2 separate regions of the Homo sapiens genome follow, and region 2 is linked to region 1. Evidence: fine-mapped QTL for protein levels in blood plasma. A gene starts in region 1. The other region holds a variant in brackets. All regions are shown on one strand. Distances are from middle to middle. Region 1 holds the start of ST3GAL1 (ST3 beta-galactoside alpha-2,3-sialyltransferase 1). Region 2 overlaps ST3GAL1 (ST3 beta-galactoside alpha-2,3-sialyltransferase 1).

Evidence for each region. PIP is the posterior inclusion probability: the model's chance that the variant is causal. Protein levels are from antibody-based Olink assays in UK Biobank. Linkage for the fine-mapping came from a reference panel and not from the study's own genotypes, which makes the PIPs less certain.
Region 2: its variant is fine-mapped to the plasma level of the ST3GAL1 protein (UK Biobank, PIP above 0.99).

What each region holds. Positions count from the first base shown.
Region 1 is chr8:133,568,852-133,577,128 of GRCh38, reverse strand. It overlaps ST3GAL1 (ST3 beta-galactoside alpha-2,3-sialyltransferase 1), which reads left to right and starts at 5,242. Exons shown (of 10, transcript NM_173344.3): 1 at 5,242-5,436. It overlaps ST3GAL1-DT (ST3GAL1 divergent transcript), which reads right to left and starts at 6,557. Exons shown (of 2, transcript NR_186509.1): 1 at 6,259-6,557; 2 at 3,273-6,071. RefSeq lists silencers at 4,493-4,552, 4,743-5,232 and enhancers at 7,023-7,242, 6,602-7,455, 7,413-7,482.
Region 2 is chr8:133,454,058-133,462,353 of GRCh38, reverse strand. It overlaps ST3GAL1 (ST3 beta-galactoside alpha-2,3-sialyltransferase 1), which reads left to right. Exons shown (of 10, transcript NM_173344.3): 9 at 360-479; 10 at 2,417-7,506. The coding sequence ends at 2,590. Among named protein-coding and RNA genes, the nearest start is that of ST3GAL1-DT, 110 kb to the left of the region's middle. The variant A/G (reference allele first, on the strand shown) is at 3,966.

The sequences.
Region 1 (8,277 bases):
GTTTTGGCTGGGATCATCGTGGGGCTGGGTGGAATACATGTGTGTGTCAGTCTAGTCTTCAATCCGGGTCATAAGAAATTTCTCTGTATCTGGTATAGACCCTTCTTAAATTGTTGATAGTCTCATTGCCTCCAATGATGCAGATAGTTTCAACTTCTGTCACTTTGTTCTTCTTCCCCAAGATTGTAGCTATGATCGAATGCGACCTACCTGCCTGGGGAGCAATAACCATCACCAATTTTCCACCTCCGTGGTCTTTAATCACTTTTAATTTCATTTCCAGCTCAATCACTGATATGGTTTGGTTGTGTCCCCACCCAAATCTCATCTTGACTTGTAGTTCCCATAATCCCCATGTGTCGTGGGAAGGACCAGGTGGAGATAATTGAATCATGGGGGCAGTTTCCTCCATCCTATTCTCATGATAGTGAGTTCTCACAAGATCTGATGGTTTTATAAGGGGCTTCTCCCTTCACTGGGCACTCATTCTTCTCTCTCCTGCTGCCTTGTTTTTTTTTTTTTGTTTTTTTTTTTTGTTTTTTTTTTTTGTTTTTTGTTTTTTTGAGATGGAGTCTCACTCTGTCACCCAGGTTGGAGTGCAGTGGCGCGATCTCGGCTCACTGCAAGCTCCGCCTCCCGGGTTCACACCATTCTCCTGCCTCAGCCTCCCGAATAGCTGGGACTACAGGCGCCTGCCACTGCGCCCAGCTAATTTTTTGTATTTTTTAGTAGAGACGGGGTTTCACCGTGTTAGCCCGGATGGTCTCGATCTCCTGACCTCCTGATCCACCCGCCTCGGCCTCCCAAAGTGCTGGGATTATAGGTGTGAGCCACCGCGCCCGGCCCTGCTGCCTTGTTAAGAAGGATGTGTTTACTTCCCCTTTGGTGGTGACTGTATGTTTCCTGAGGCCTCCCAAGCCATGCTGAACTGTGAGTCCATTAAACCTCTTTCCTTTGTAAACTACCCAGTCTCAGGCATGTCTTTCTTAGCAGTGTGATCATGGACTAATACAATCACTCAATGTGGCTTCTCTTTGGCAACATTAGCCATGGATTCTGTACGCTTAGGGACCGTGAGGAACAAAACAGCATGAGATTAAATCAAGCACAAGAGAAAATGATGCAATCGAAAAAAATGAGATGAATGAGGCTACTGCCGGTATGACACAGAATACTGTTTTACAGTAAACTCTTGGTTTTATAAGCAGAAGAAGCACACTCTAAAATGATTTAAAGTATAGTACAGTAAATATATAAGCCTGTTACATAGCTGTTTATTATCATTATCAAGTATTATATACTGTACATATTGTATGTGCCATACTGGTAGTGCAGTAAGTTTGTTTATACCAGCATCGCCACAAACACATGAGTAATGCACGGAGTTGATGTTATGCCAGCTACACCACTAGGTGACAGGAATTTATCAGTGTCATCAGAGGGGACCACTCTCATATACGCATTCCTTTTTTGACCAAAACGTCATTACTCAGTGAACGACTGTACATGTGAGAAGTGTGGCTGGGTTCTGCCAAATAGTTTACTAACTCAAATGCCTGCCAAGATTCTCAGAGTCAGGACCATGTCTCCTACACTCCCTCTAATGCATCATCTCCTGGAGGACTGTCCTTCTGCACAGTCATTCATGGGATGAGCTCAGGCTGCCTGGGCAGTCCATCCAGTATTGGATTGGTGATTCATGACTCTGTAGATGAGGCCTGTCAGTCAGATTCCTCTCCTGGAAAAACTAAAACACCTGGTGGAACCACAGTGGGAAGTGAAGCTGAAAAGATTATTTCCACAATTGCCAGGATGCAGAAAGGCTGAGGCCATAAACATGCAGAAAACTTTAGAACAGACCCCAGGATTTAACAGAGAAAGCCTGTGGGCAGAGAGAGAACAGAGCGGAGAGGGGGAGGGGGGGCAGCGGTGGGGGTCGGGAGGGAGACAGAAACACAGAGATGGGCTCTCTCTCCTTGCAGCTTGTTTTCAGCTTCAGTCTGCACATCTCTACATTAAAACTCTTTTTTCTAAAGAAACTTGAGTGAGTTCCTCACAGTCCCAAGAGCCCTAAGGAAAACACTGTCTAAAACACAAAACACCATGTGCTGTGCCCAGCACCTCTGAACTCATCTCTGACAAGTGGTGCAGCCCTTTTCTTTTCTGCACAATCACCCAAATGGGACCAGAACCCATTAGGATCTTTCCACTCTGCTGTGCCAAGAAACGGGGGTAGGGAAAGGATGAAATCAATTTCCTTAACCATCATTACTGAGAGCTTTGCTGGTGCTCCAAAAGGTAGGAGGTGGCAGCATGCAGTAAATCAATGTCAGCGCTCCCTGGAGACCCACTGTGAAGACACTCCCAGTAATGACTATGATCCTTGTTCTCTGGCAGGATGTGATGGGACATACACTCAGGGTGACAAAGAGGAATGCATGCACACACTTCTGACACACAGCCCCTGGCAAGGGTCCTAAAAGGGGGTGTTAAGAGAGCTACTTGCATGGAATGTCAAAACTCTGGAAAAAAAGGGAGAGGGAGAGGCTGTCCCTGTTACCTGGGAAGAAACTTAACAGAAAGAAAGTGGGGCTTTCAGAAAAGGCCTTGCCCAGGTTAACCCTTCAGAGATGAACTAAAGATGCATCTGATGTACAATGTTTTATTCAAATAAGGTGGTGATTTATGTGTGTTTCACCACAATGTCAATTAATAAGGAATTTCCATCTCACTATGGAGTCATCCAGGGGAACTTCCAAGACATGGTCCTGAAGCCTCCCTCCAACCCTGAGAATCTTGGTGGGATTTGCGTTAGCAGAACTGTTTGGCAGAACCCATACAATCTACACTATTCACATATATAGTCATGCATTGGATAACATTTTGGTCAATGATGGACCACATGCATGTAAGACAGTGGTCTCACAATATATTAATGTAGCTGAAAAACTCCTGTGCCTAGTGATCAGAACATCAACTCAATGCATTACTCACATGTTTGTGGTGATGCTGGTATAAACAAAACTACTGCACTGCCAGTATTGCACGTGGAATACATACAGTAAGAACTCAGCTAAAACTGAGCTGCTTTTGGTTCTTGGCTGCAAAGTGCAACAGCTGGATGACCTGGGGCTCCTTACTTGCCAAATCTGATCCTCTTTCCACAGAATCTACTAGGATATAGTAGCATAGTCTTATATGAGTATAGCATTTTCTATTTTTCGAATATGTTCCCATACATTATTTGATCCATACAATAAACAACACTTTTGTTATTTCATCCAAAAACTCTTTATTGGCCCAGACGATATTCCCAGCCAAAGCTAAAAGTCTGGTGCATGTTAGAAGCTCTTCTTTGCTGGAAGACGCTGCTGGTGGAGGGGACAGTAGCCGATGTAAGCAGAACTCTCTGCCCCCCTCCTCCCATGCACACAAGCAATCTGGAGATGCAGTGAACACCTTGACCTGAGTTTCAGAAAGAGGAAAGCCCACAGGATGTGTCCAGGCAGACAAAAGGGCTCACCCCTTCTCTAGAATTCTATCAAAAACCAAGGGCGTCAGGCAAGAGGTCTCAGAGCAGGTCCCGAAGTACCTAAAAGGCTATTCATCTTTTCCTTCCCTTTCTAGTAGTTATTTTTCTCATTCTCTCTCCTCCCCCTTTTAAAAGCTGGTTTTTCTTCTACTTTTCTCATCTCTGAATATTTCTCCTTTTCTCTCCCAAGTCCCTGAAGTCTTCCCCAACACCCTAGCCCCCATCTTCTAGCACAGGTCATCTTCCTGCTGTGGGCAGGGACCTGACACTGGAGAAACCCACCATCTACACAGCTGACTTACTACATGTCAAAGACAGTTCTAAAGGTTCTATGTGTACGAATTCACTAACTCATCACAACAGCTTTATCAGACAGACACTTCTTAGGTCGGTTCTCACAGATGAGGACACCGAGGCACAGAGTCACCTAGGCTGGGAGGTTCAGTCACTAGCCCAAGCTCACACATCCGTTGAGTGGCAGTGCAGGATTTGAACCAAGAAGTCCGGCCATGCGGGCCCTGGCCTGAATCCCTGTACTACAGCAGCCGTCTGATGAAACAAAGGCTGGGGGACTCTCCCCTTCCACTGCAAAAGGTTGATCTCTCTCCAGCTGGAGCAAGGGGCGCTGGAAGGATGCAATGACCCCAAAGGCAAACTGTGCCTCTTTCCTCTAACATTCCTCCGAAAAGTTGCGAAAGAGGTAGTCTCAGTAAGGGGTTAAGAACCGTAAAACCAGATTTACATGACTTGTGTACTGCATTTAGCATCAAAGCGCTGCACTCTGCCTTTCAGCAAAAGAAGTCTCCACCGCCCCCGCTTCCCTGTAAAAGAGGGAGGGCTGAATAACTGCAAGCCTAATCCGCAAACCCCAAGCTCCAGCCGCAGCCTCCGCATCTGGAAGGAAAAAGCGGCGGCAGGCGAGCCAGGGCAAGGGCTGGGCCAGGGCCGGGGCCGGGACCAGGGCCGGCCGCAGTGCCCGGCTCTGTGGCTCTGAACGCGGTTCTGGCCGCAAGAGTCGTCCAGCCCACGCTCCTCCCTTCCCCCTCCCTAAATCCCACCTCGAGTCCCGCGCCCTTAGAGGAAGTGGGTGGCTCTGCCCGGTCGCCAGCAGGGGATCGGCCCCTTCTCCCCACCGTGCCCCCGACTCGAGTTCTTCTGGGCACTGCCATCCTCTCGGTGCGTGCCCGTCTTCCTGCTGAAACGGACCCCAGTGGCTCCCGGGCCTCCCGGGCGCTCTTCCTTAGCCCCGCCAGCTTGAGGGCCGCGTCCAGAGAGCGGGGAGCTCCTCTCGGGGCGCCGATCAGGTCCCCGCGCCGCAGCCGCCGCCTCCGGCGTCTCCCAGGCTCGGCCTCTGCCGAGCCCGCTGCGGTCCACGTGGCTTGGCAGAGCTAAATTCGGCTTGCAGGAAGCCCGGAGCCAAGGGAAAGCCGAGCCAAGTTGGGGTGGGCGGGGCCGAACGGAGGCGCAGAGTCGGGAGGGGCGGGCACTGGGCGGAGGAAGGGGAGGGCCGCGCGCAGGGGAGGCGGTGGCTGGGCTCTGGCGCGCCCTGGCACCCGGCCCCGGCCGGCCAGGGAAGGCGGCCCCTCCTCGGTCGCCCCGCCTTTCACTCCCGTTACACCCGGGGGAAGGTGTTCCCGAGCCCTCTCCCACCCTCATCCCGCCTCCTCGCTTCCTCGGCTCCAGCCTCCGCCGGCGGAGCCCACTATGCCAGACAGTTTCGACACTTTGCAAAGACAAAGAGCCCTAGACCGGAGGGAGGAGGAGGAGGAAGAAGAGCGGAGAGAGAAGGAAGAGGCGATGTGAGCTGGGAAGGGGGCAAGTGTCCGGGACACCCACACCCCTGTATTCTCCTCCGAACCCCTTCATGCCCAAATCCCGGAAACTCCAGCGTGTCTCCAGCCGTGGTGAGTGCGCGCGCGGAGGCGAACCCTGCTCGGGGTGCGCGGGGGCTGCGTCCGCCTGAGTTGGGGCTCGGGCAGTTTCCTGTGGATTCTCGGAGTGGAAGGTTGATTGTCTGGACCCGGGAACTGAAGGGGTGGGGAGGGGACTAGGAGGGTGTGACAGTGGAGCTGGGACTGAAGACCCCGGGATTCTAGTGGAAGACATTCGAAGGGAGACCCCTTCCTTGGCAGCGGCGACCACCCAGGGCTTTGGGAGAGGAAGAAGGTCGGGGTGGAGGTTCGGGCTTAGGGGTCTTCGGCCGACACTGGAGGAGCTGCCTGGAGCTCTGTGGGGAACCTACGCCAAGTCCCGGGCAGCGGTTCCCGAAAGCAGCCCCAGTGACATTGCACCCGGCGCCGGGCTGGGATCTCCTCCGCTGGGGCCGCCCGTGGGAGGAGACCTCGCTGGGTGGCCGGGCTCAGGCGCTCTCGAGCGGATTTGGGGTCACAGGCTGGGACACCGCGGAGGCCGCCAGTGTTCTGGACGAGCGGCCGTGGGACAGTATCCGGATCGAGTCCCCCAATCCGCTGCAAGCAGGCGCAGATCCGGGAGGTGGCTATCGGCCCCGGGGACGCCGTCAGAGCGCGCTGCTCCGGATCTGGGGGTGAAGTTGACACCCGGGACAAGAGAGCTGAACGCGGCGTGGCGGACAGTGGGGGACGCGGGTGGGCCAAGGAGAGCACGGCCGGAGTCGTGTTAGTGGCAACTCGAAACTCTGAATCCGCCCCAACCCCGTGAGGCGTCGCAGCTCCCAAGAAATAATCTGACAAAAGTTAGCAACTTGCCTGTGTCTCTCGTGTGTGTGACCTGCGTGGGGGCAGGGCCACCCCTTCTGGGAGCGCACGGGGACGGACAGCGGTGACCCTGGGGCGAGGCGCTCTGGTGAGGGTACAGTTAGTTTGGAATCGGGACGGTGGCGCAACTTTCCGCTCCTCCTTTCTCTGCGCGAGTGTTTAAGCGTGACCTTGCGGGAGGAAGCGCGGCTGAACTTGAGATGGGGGTTGAGCTTGCGCCCCGGCTTGGCACAGAGACGTCGGAGCGCGCATTAGCCTGGCCTTGCAGCCGGGTCTCCCAGGAAGCGTGTGGGGATCGTCTGGCTCTGCTCGTCAGCTGGAGCCCTGACTCGCTCCTCCCTCCTACGCTAGGGTCCTCGGCGGCCGTACCATGCGCGGGGCTCGGTGGTGTGTTGGGCGAGGGGACACGTGCGCACCCAGAAGCGCGCAAGGGGGTGGGGGTTGGGCAGGTCACTGCGTCTCGCGGGCTGGGCGAGTCCCGCAGAGGGAGTCAGCCGTGACCCTGAGGGCAGTGACTGGCTCGCCGCGTCCCTGCATCAGGCATTCGCCCGGCTTTCTCGTGATTGTTTCCGGGCACCCCTGGCCTCTCCCGACTTCTCCCCCTCGCGGGTCCCCAAGCCCCGCAAGTTTGCGACGAGCTGGTTCTCCAGGGAGACAGCGAGCGCCCACCCCCGCTCTGCGGCTGGGTGTGTGTGGTGAGAGGAAGAGACGGGAGGAGGAGGCGAGGCCGACTCGCCAACGAGGAAAACGGGGTGAGAGGGGAGCCGGGTTTTCCAATAGTCGCCAGGGCGCCTGGCACGTCGTAGGTGCTAACGCAGTGTTCATTGACAAGGCCCCAAGGTGGAAGGTGCTGGCAGGGGCCCGGACGCCCCCTTCTTCCCTTCCAGTCTCTAAAATGGAGTTCAAATGTATCGACCAAGCCCTTTAGGCTTCTAGACGTGCCTGGAGCACCTACTACGTGCGGGGGCTCTACTCCTGGCCTGTTCGTAGAAGCTGCGGGCGGAGCCTCCTGATTTTCTTTACCCCGCGCTGCCCAAGCGCCCAGAGGCTTCGAAAAGGCAAGGTGCACTGCCCCCTGCCGGCTGCTGTGGAAACTGCCGCTTGTCTCTGCGGTGGGGAAGGGGCGCCCAGTGCGGGGGTCCCTCAGTGCCTTCCCGCACCTCCCCTTCCTGCCCCAAACATTAGGACCCCTGCCGGCTGTTTTCTGAAATCCCATGGTTGGCTGAAATGACTGACTAGAGTTCACCACTCCGTGCCCCTCAGCCTCTGCCAATATCTGGGTACAGCGTGGGGCCTCTTCTAGTCTCCCGTCTCTCTGTCTCTGTCTCTCTTTGGTCGCCAGACTTAACCTCTCGGCGTCTCAGTTTCTATATCTGCAAAATGAGGCCAATAATACATTCTCCAAAATACGTTCTGCATAATTGCGAGTGGCGATAATACATATAATTAAGTGAATGTGTGTATGTATAGGTAGTTCATACTCTACATGTGTGTATGTGTATACCTTGACTTCAGGTCTAGGGAAAAAAGTTCCATCGTACACTTTTTGCTAAATAAAGAATGAATAGAGGGCTCCTTCTCCTCTTGCCTTTTCAAAATCCCACAAACCCTGAAGTTTGCTTTCCCTGCATTTTTCTGGGCCGGCATTTGCTGTTTAGAGTCTGATTGGACAAGGCCAGGACCTGGGCTTGAGCAGGGCCTTTGTTGCCTACCTCCCTGGCTGGGAGGCCACAGCACCCCACCCAGGGTGAGAGAGAAAAACAGGAAGCGTTGCTAGAAGTGATGGCAGAGGAGGGTTTCTTAGGGAGTGTGGAGTCTGTTCCTCGAAGCTCTGCAGCAGCAGGCGGAAACTGCCTTCTGAGCAGCCTTCTTGCTGATTGTAATCAGGGCTGTACTGCCCCCCTTCCCTGGTGGCGCTCACAGCATTGGCTGTCGCTGATCTGGAAGCCCTTCTTATGGGGATGAAGTCGTCTGTGAGCTTGACAGGAAGGAGTCCTTCTAGGTCCTGGG
Region 2 (8,296 bases), 110 kb after region 1:
GTCCAGTCCCACCTCACACTGTTCCCTGGAGCCCCCTTCTCCTGAGCAGCCTCCCATCTCACTCCCTGGCCTCCTTGGATTTTTCTGTGTGTCAGCTCAGTGATCCTCCTCACACGGTCCTGTAGGGCCCTCCTCTGCATCATTGCTCTCCATAGCACTTATTAGCTCAGCACCTCTGTCTCTTAGTGATGTGGATGAGTGTCCATCTTTCCTACGAGCATGGAAGCCCACAAGTGCAGGCGTATCTATTAGGCTCATGGCTGTGCCTCCATGGCCACAACAGTATGTACATCTGACAGGCGCTCCATGTCCTTTGCCCCCCAGAACTCACTAAGGGCCGTGTCTTCCCATCCCCGCAGATCCTGATCTACCACCCAGCCTTCATCAAGTATGTCTTTGACAACTGGCTGCAAGGGCACGGGCGATACCCATCTACCGGCATCCTCTCGGTCATCTTCTCAATGCATGTCTGCGATGAGGTATGCCACCCTCCCCCTGCCCACAGGGCTGCCTCGAAGCTCACCGTCCTGTGTTCCCAAGAGAGGCCAGGGAGGGGGAGGGCAGGTAGACCTAGCCTGCCTCTTCCGGAAGCTCGGATTCCCTGTCTCTACGACAGGACTTGCAACATGTGTCTCCCAGGGTGTTTTAGTGAGTAACAGTGCTCTATGAGAAAGTTCTCAGGAGCAATAGTTCTGGCACATTCTGTGTAAGTGCCCAGGACCGTGGTGGTGGAAGCTCGGATCTCGCAGCAGATTCCGGATACAGAAGCGGATTCTCATAGCGAGAGTTGTCTAAGGCCACAGTTCTCAATCCCACTTGCTCCTTAGAATCATCTGTGGGTCTAAGTTCCAGCACCCAAGCCACACCTTGGCCCAATTTTACCAGAATTAATGGGAGCCAGGTACCCAGGGGTTCCACTGTCTACCGAGGTTGAGAACCCGTGATCTCGAGAAGCATGCATTTGCCTTCCCATGTCCTTCGCTGTCCGCTAGGCTGTGTTCGGGTTTCCACTTATGCTCTGAGAGGTTTGCTGCCACCCCAGGAAGAGGGGCAGGAGGGCAGGCCACACAGCCCCCACTTCCTCCCTGATGTTGGGTTCAGGCAGGGCCCTCACGTGTCCCTTCTTGTCTCATTCAGCCCAGCCCCAGCCCCACCCTGCCTGGTGCCTGGTGGGAATCTCAGAAAGGGTCAGAGGCATTGCAAGGCAGGTCCCCAGGCTCAGCCCCACCCTGGTGTTCCCAGGTAGAAACATGGGTGCCCCTGTCATTTCCCCACCCCACCCACCTCCAGCCAGCTGGTCCCAGACCCTTGCTTGAGGTTCTGCTCAAGAGCCCTTTCTCCCATCGTCCCACCGATTTGGCCCTAACGTTCTTGCCCTGGAGCAGGCCCATGTCCATGTTGCATTTCCTGAGAAAGCCACATGTGGCATGGTGCTGTCCCCGTCCCCTCTTTGTCCCCACCCCTCCAATCTATCTTCCACGCTGCAGCCCAGATAGCACGTCCTCTCCCTGGAAGCCCCTCCATGCAATTCCTTCTGGTCATCTTGTACTCATTTTCCAAGACCCAACTCACATGCCACCTCCTCTGAAGAGCTTCCTCTGACCTCTCAGGGCATAGCTCCTCCCTCCTCTGTGCTGCGGGAGCCCTGAATTTAGCCCCATTTCCAACAAGGACCACTCAGTCAGTGACTCCAAGAAGCTATAAGCTCCAAGGCTGCTTCCCCCTGCAGCTGCCCAGCTGGCATCTGATCAAGCTCTGCCTGAACTTCAGTACAGCCAGCAGGGTGCTGGGCTCAGAATAAATGCACAGGGTTTGTCATGTATGTGAAAGGCCTGGTCTAGTGGCCCTGAGGGCGCCTGGACCAGATGAATGTTGGCCACAGAGAAGAAAGGGATCAGCCCTGCCCTCTGCCTCACTGCAATCATGATTCTTGGACCCATTTTCCAGATGAGGAAAGTGAGGCTCAAAGAAGTGACTTCACATGCCCAGGGCACCACGGAGTGGCAGAGCTGGGATTTGGGGCAGTTTGCTTGGCCCCAAAGCCCTGCTCTCCTTCCACTCTCTTCCATTCCACGCCCTCCTTCCTATTCCTTCCCTCTGTAGCTCCTCAATCCTGGGAGAATAGGTTGCACTTGCTGCAGAGGTAAGACCCGGGCCCCTGAGACCACCCAGATGCAGTAATCTCTCAGGGTGCTTCTGGAATTAGACTTGAGTTTTACTTAACTTGCATTTGCTTCACCAAGACTCTGAGAGTTCCAGGAACGTAGAGAAGGGTTTTTAATGAAGGGTTAGTCAGAGTCCTTGGAAATGCTGTTTATGGTCCTGTGGGATTCCAGGAACGCCTACAGGCTTCCTTTCTCAGAGGTGCCACCAGCAGCCCTGCTGTCTGGTTCTCATCTTTGCTTTGCTCCCACAGGTGGACTTGTACGGCTTCGGGGCAGACAGCAAAGGGAACTGGCACCACTACTGGGAGAACAACCCATCCGCGGGGGCTTTTCGCAAGACGGGGGTGCACGATGCAGACTTTGAGTCTAACGTGACGGCCACCTTGGCCTCCATCAATAAAATCCGGATCTTCAAGGGGAGATGACGCAGTGAAGGGCTGAGGATGGACGCACTGTCACACCTCTGCATTTCCAGCCCCAGCATCTTGCTGGAGCCGTTCCATCCCGGAGCTTGGAGGGGCAGCCTCAGGTGTGTGCCTGGGCACCGCTCACAGCCTCTTGCACCCAGCCGTTGGCAGCATCTACTCAGCAAGGTCACTAAGCTCTGCCAGCGTGGCAGAGCATGTCTTGGAACCTGTCTTGAGTGGGGACAACGTCCCCCCACTGCTGCCCTAGAGCTGGGGAGACGCTGGGAAAGGTTCAACCTCCACACACTAAAATCATTTTGGCTCCTGGGGCAAGCTTGGGGAATGAATGTGGAAGATGCCTATATTCTGAGAGACAGGACAGTTTCCCAGGAAGATGGGCAGAGACTTGAGTGGCGATTACCTCCAGCACAGAGACGTGCCAGGCGGTGTTGGCGCTCGGGGCGAGATGCTGCCCTTCTTTGCACGAAGCCTGGCCTCTTGCTTGGCGTGATAACCCTGTCATCTTCCCAAAGCTCATTTATGAGCCACCAGAGGCTCCTACCCCAAAGATTTTCACAGAAACTTGAGGCCAGGTGCCGTGGCTCACACCTGTAATCTGAACACTTTGGGAGGCCGAGGCGGGAGGATCACTTGAGCCCAGGAGTTCAAGACCAGCCTGGGCAACATAGTGAGACTCCTGTCTCTACAAAAATAAAAGATTTAAAAAAATTAGCCAGGCACGGTGGCACACACTTGTAGCCCCAGCTACTAGGGAGGCTGAGGAGGGAGGATCTCTTGTGCCTAGGAGTTCGAGGCTGCAGTGGGCTGTGATCACACCACTGCACTCCAGCCTGGGCAACAGAGTGAGACCCTGTCTCTGAAAAAAAAAAAAAAAGAAAAGAAAAAAAACCCCAAACTTGGCACCGTGTTTCTGACTCCTGCAGATGCCTCTTCCCAAGCAGTTGTTCCTTTGAGTAGTCAGTCTCATGGTTCTAATCGTGGCGAGAGCGGATCTGACCACTTCCATGTGCCTTTGTATTTGGGAAAGAAAAGCATGCATTGGCTGAAATGAAACAAAAGCCCTTACTTGGGAAAAGGGACCCCCACCAGCGGCCCTGCTTGCTCCGTAGCTGGGAACATCTTTTCTGGTTTCCTGAGCCAGCACCTGAATTGCAACGAAGCTCTGAGGATACTCAACACCACCCAGCAGTGCGTCAGAATGGAACGTACATTCTCATTCTCAGACTGTTCAATATGGTGCCCGTAACCTCCAAAGCCACACAGGAGGCTGCCAGCAGCATTTTCCCCAAGGGCCTGAGCTCAGGGTCAAGTCCCTGCTGGCCATCTTGGGGCTGTCACTGGGGGTCTGGGTCAAGGACATCCCAGGAATGGT[A/G]ACTGCCACATACCTCATCTTCTTACTCCCCAGCTACTCTCTTTTCCTCATTAGCCTTCCTGATTATTTATTGATTTCTTTTTTTTATTCAACTGACATTGTTTGCACCCTGGCTCTGTTGGTGGTCCTGGTGTTTTAATGAAGCTTGCCTCACCCAGTAGCTGGGAAATTAGGTGGGGGTGCTTAAGGGAGGTTTGTAGGAGTCCTCGGACGTGGGATATTGGGGGTATCTAGGGCTTGGATGGTTTGTGGAATGTCCTCAGCATCCTCCCGTCCCAACCCAACCTTCCTTCTTCCTCATTGTGGACTTGGATTTATTCTCAGGCTAGGAGTCTCCAAAACTCCGTGAAACCTTATTGCTGCTGGGTGTGGAGTGGAGAGTGACAGGAATGTGGGGGACGGTGATTGTTGGCTCCAGTTACTAATGTTTAAGCAGAAAAACCACTTTCTTGTTGAAAATATCCCTGAAAAGGTCGCTGCTGCTTTGAGGAGGCGTGACTTTTTCCTGGTGGAGTGTGACGGAGGCATGGGGCCTGTGCTCCCAGGCTCGGGGGAGCCCCCTCTGCACACGGGGAGGGAGGAACTTGGGGACATCAGTCATGGGTCACAGGTGGCTTCAGGCCATTCACAAGAGTCCCCGGAAGTTGCGTGCCAAGTTTGGTTTTTTCCCTGAATCTCTGCATATGAGCATTTTTCTGGAGAAAGGACCATAGCTTTTATTAGATTCTCAAAGGTTCAGAATGGGGAATGTGTTAAACAAACCGAAAACCTGTTTCAGCTTTAAAATCCTCCAAAACTTTAAAGACTTTTCTTTTTTCTGAGAAAGGCTGGTAAATCACTGAGTCATCATTCAGAACATACAGCCTCGAAGGGCAGAGCTCACACCCATATATGACGTTAAGAGCTCAACAAATGTTTGTTGAGTGACTGAGTGACCCCAGGGGCAGACTCCAGATCATCAGACACTGATACAGAGAGCGATGCTATCTCCTCAACTCTCCCTCTTCTCCTAAAAGCTGAGTCTATATAGGGATGACAGGCTCAGGCTGAGCAGTCGACTTCTCTGGGTTTTGCTGTGTAAGAATAGGTCCCTCAACATGAAGATGTGTCTGCGTCTGAGCCAGATGCTGCCTGGGTCGGTTGCCTGGCCTCCGTCTGGTCTCCCTCCCTCCTACTAGGGTGGTCAAGCTGTGAGATCTCTTCCAGCCTCCAAATCCAGCTTTCCCATTTTACTGATGAGAAAATCAAGGCCACATTGCAGCTGGGTGGGGAGTGGAGCGTGACAGGCACGGGAGAGGACAGCGATTGTTGACTCTAGTTCCTGATGTTTAATCAGAAAAACCACTTTTCCTGTAGAGCACATTTCCTAAAAGGCTGCTGCTGTGTAGGGAGGTGTGGCCTTTTCCTGGTGCAGTGTGAAGGAGGGAAGTGACGGGCAGTCGTGAACTGTCTGGGACAGATAGCACAAGTCAGAGTTTGAGCAAAACTAGGGTGTTACCGGCGCTATGTTGAAATTGTCTGGAGGCGGGCTTTCCCAGCGAGTCTCCATTCAGCATCTGGAAAAAGTGTAACCAGAATGGAGGTGTCTGACTCTCCTGTGCTCTCTCAGCGCCGAGCTCTAGCTGCAGGCTGCCTGGGTGGCCTTCTCACACCCTCCCGTGCAGGAGACTGCATTTCTCTTTCCCACAGCCCAGCAGATAGCTCATTGGCTTAGCAATGGGCACTTAACAGAATCCAGTTGTTGCAGCCAGAATTAAATGCACCAGTCTGGCTTAAACCAACTGGAACTCATCCCTGGGGTGAAGGTGGCTGGGAATTAGACAAGAGTGTGTGTTAGCCAAAAGGCACATGCATGCTGTCAGCAGGAGAATGAGGAGCACTGGTTCTGGGCAGGCAGTGGCAGGGGCTCCCTCAGGCCCCTGATTCCCAGCCCACAGCTCTTTCTACTCTGCAGACAGAGTTCCTTGGAGACTGGCCCTGCATTCAGGCAGGGAGCAGAGGGGTCCCTGCCTGCAGCACCCAGAGCTGAACCTGAAGCTACAAAGATGGGCTGATGAGGTGGCCCATGAGGTGTCAGCAACATCCCAACCCCCTGGGTCTCCCCAGTGAGTCAGGGCACTGATTTGCTATAGCTGGAGCTACATGCACCTCTCCTCCCCTCAGCCACCTTTTAGGGGAGAAAGGAGGGCAGATTTGTAACCTCTGGTTCTCTGCAGGGATCCTGGGCTGGAAGAAAGTTCATAAATGGATGAATGCCTTTTAAAACTCCAGCTTTTCCAAGCATCATTCACCAAAGCATTTGGTTAGGCTTAGAGAGAAAAGCTGGATATGAGAAAATAGAATGTAAAATAGGAGGGAAAAAAAAAAAGAAGGTGGAGAGGGCAGTTAAGATCTGGGTGATTCTTTAGGGAAACGGCTGGTTGAGAGGCTTTGATGGAATCCCATTCTCTGCTGTGGCCAGAAGGTGGTGCTAGAGGCCAGTCCCACTTGGATGTGACCCTGGCCTCTGCCAGGATTCAAACCACAAAGAACATTTGGAACTGGGATGTTTGCTTTGAAGCAGCCCGAAAACAAGTGAAAGGAAACCAAGATAACTCTCTCTCCCTCCGCTGGCAAGGATCAAAAATACCTTGTGCAGGGAAGCCCGAGCCTCGAGGGGCCACTGCCCAGCTAAAGATGACTGGACACCAGCCATGCACCATCAGGAACCAGCACCTGTCCTCACCCCTGAGAAGAGCCCCGGGGGTATCATTATATCCATCGCAGACATCTGGTTTGCAGCAAATGTGGCTACACGCCATCAGGATTATCCTGCCCTGTGGACTGGGCTAGCTAGTTTTGAGATAGAGTCAACCTCCCCATTTTTGTTTGTCATGAAAACACCAGCTCCTGCACCCCTGGGGTGCTACCTGACACCTGTGCAAAGAAAAGGAGGAAAACTTAGAAGAAAAGGCAGAGACAGGCAAGACAGCATCTCACAGCTTGTCAGGATCAGGGCATTACCGACTATTTTTTCTTACCAAAAGAGCACTGAATTTCCTAGGGGAAGGTGAGCCACCTTTACACCTCCTGTCCTCCCTCCCAGCCCGTCAAGCGATCCCATCACCCAGCCTCATCACTCAGCTTCTTCCTAGTACAAAACTGCCATCGGTTGTACGTCCTGAGCTGTGGGACGTCAGCTTTAACCCTAGCCTGTCTCAGGGCCTCGCCCTCCAGCCCCCCGCCCCTTAGGGTGATCGTGGGTTTCTTCCCTTCCTCCTGCACAATCGCTTCCCTTCACTGAATTCCCTTCAAAGCCAAAGTTTCTTGAGCACTTTTTCTTGTGTGCAGTCTTGTGTGTTTGGGTGTTGGTGTTTTTAAATTTGCTTTCTATTCCCCCCTGCCTCTCTCCATGTCGTTACGCAGCTGAGCACTGGTTGGGATGCATTCGAATGACTTCAGCAAGATCCTGCTTTCCTCAGCCCCCGCTCTGTTTTATTTATTGTTTAATATTTCCAATGATCCAAATCAAAGTGAATAAACAAAGAGCTATTTTATTGTTTGGGTGTGTTTGTTGCTTTTCTACAAGGGTCATGCATTTGCGCCTCCTTCAACACTCCAACTCAGAGGGCCTCCTGGGTTGGCGTCGCCACTACCGAATGGCCAGAATTCAGGATACAGAGGAGAGCCCCAGCGTAGGCCTTGGAGAGGCCTCTTCTCAAGCCCAGGAGTCCCATTACCTGCCGTGTGACTGGCGAGTCACCTAAGTTCTCTGAACCTCAGCTGCGTGTCTCATGTATTAAATGGGCGCGACAACACTGGCCTTCAGAGGGGATGTGGGAGTAAAAACAAAAGCATCTCCAGAGGCCCAGTAGACATGCACCACCTGCTTGAACGTTTGCTGAGTGAATTCACCTTGGCCAGGGCCTGATTGGGCTGGGCTAGTGTCTGTCCTCCCCCGACAGAGACGGGCACACCCAGGGATGGACAAGAGTTTGGTCCAAAGTTGGCACTAATCTCCCTTTAAAAAAAAAAAAAAACAGATTCAGAAACCCAATGTTGCGAGCCTGTAAGATAAAATTGGTATACACAGTAACCAGGCCTCCCAGTTTGTATGGCACACAATACCTCCATGGGCGTGATCTTTAACTCAGAACAGCCCTGCGGGCTGCTGCATGGCTGAGGGCGGAGGTGGGTTCACAGCCAGGCGCCTCTCTCCAGTCCCGGGCCTCCTGTCTGCCCTGCCGCCTCCCTGTCACTCTGTGCTTAGCAAAGACGTTGAGTTATTTGAGACACTGTCTATGGGGACCTTCTGAGGGCAGCCCCCAGAGGAAGGATGGGGCAGAGATTCA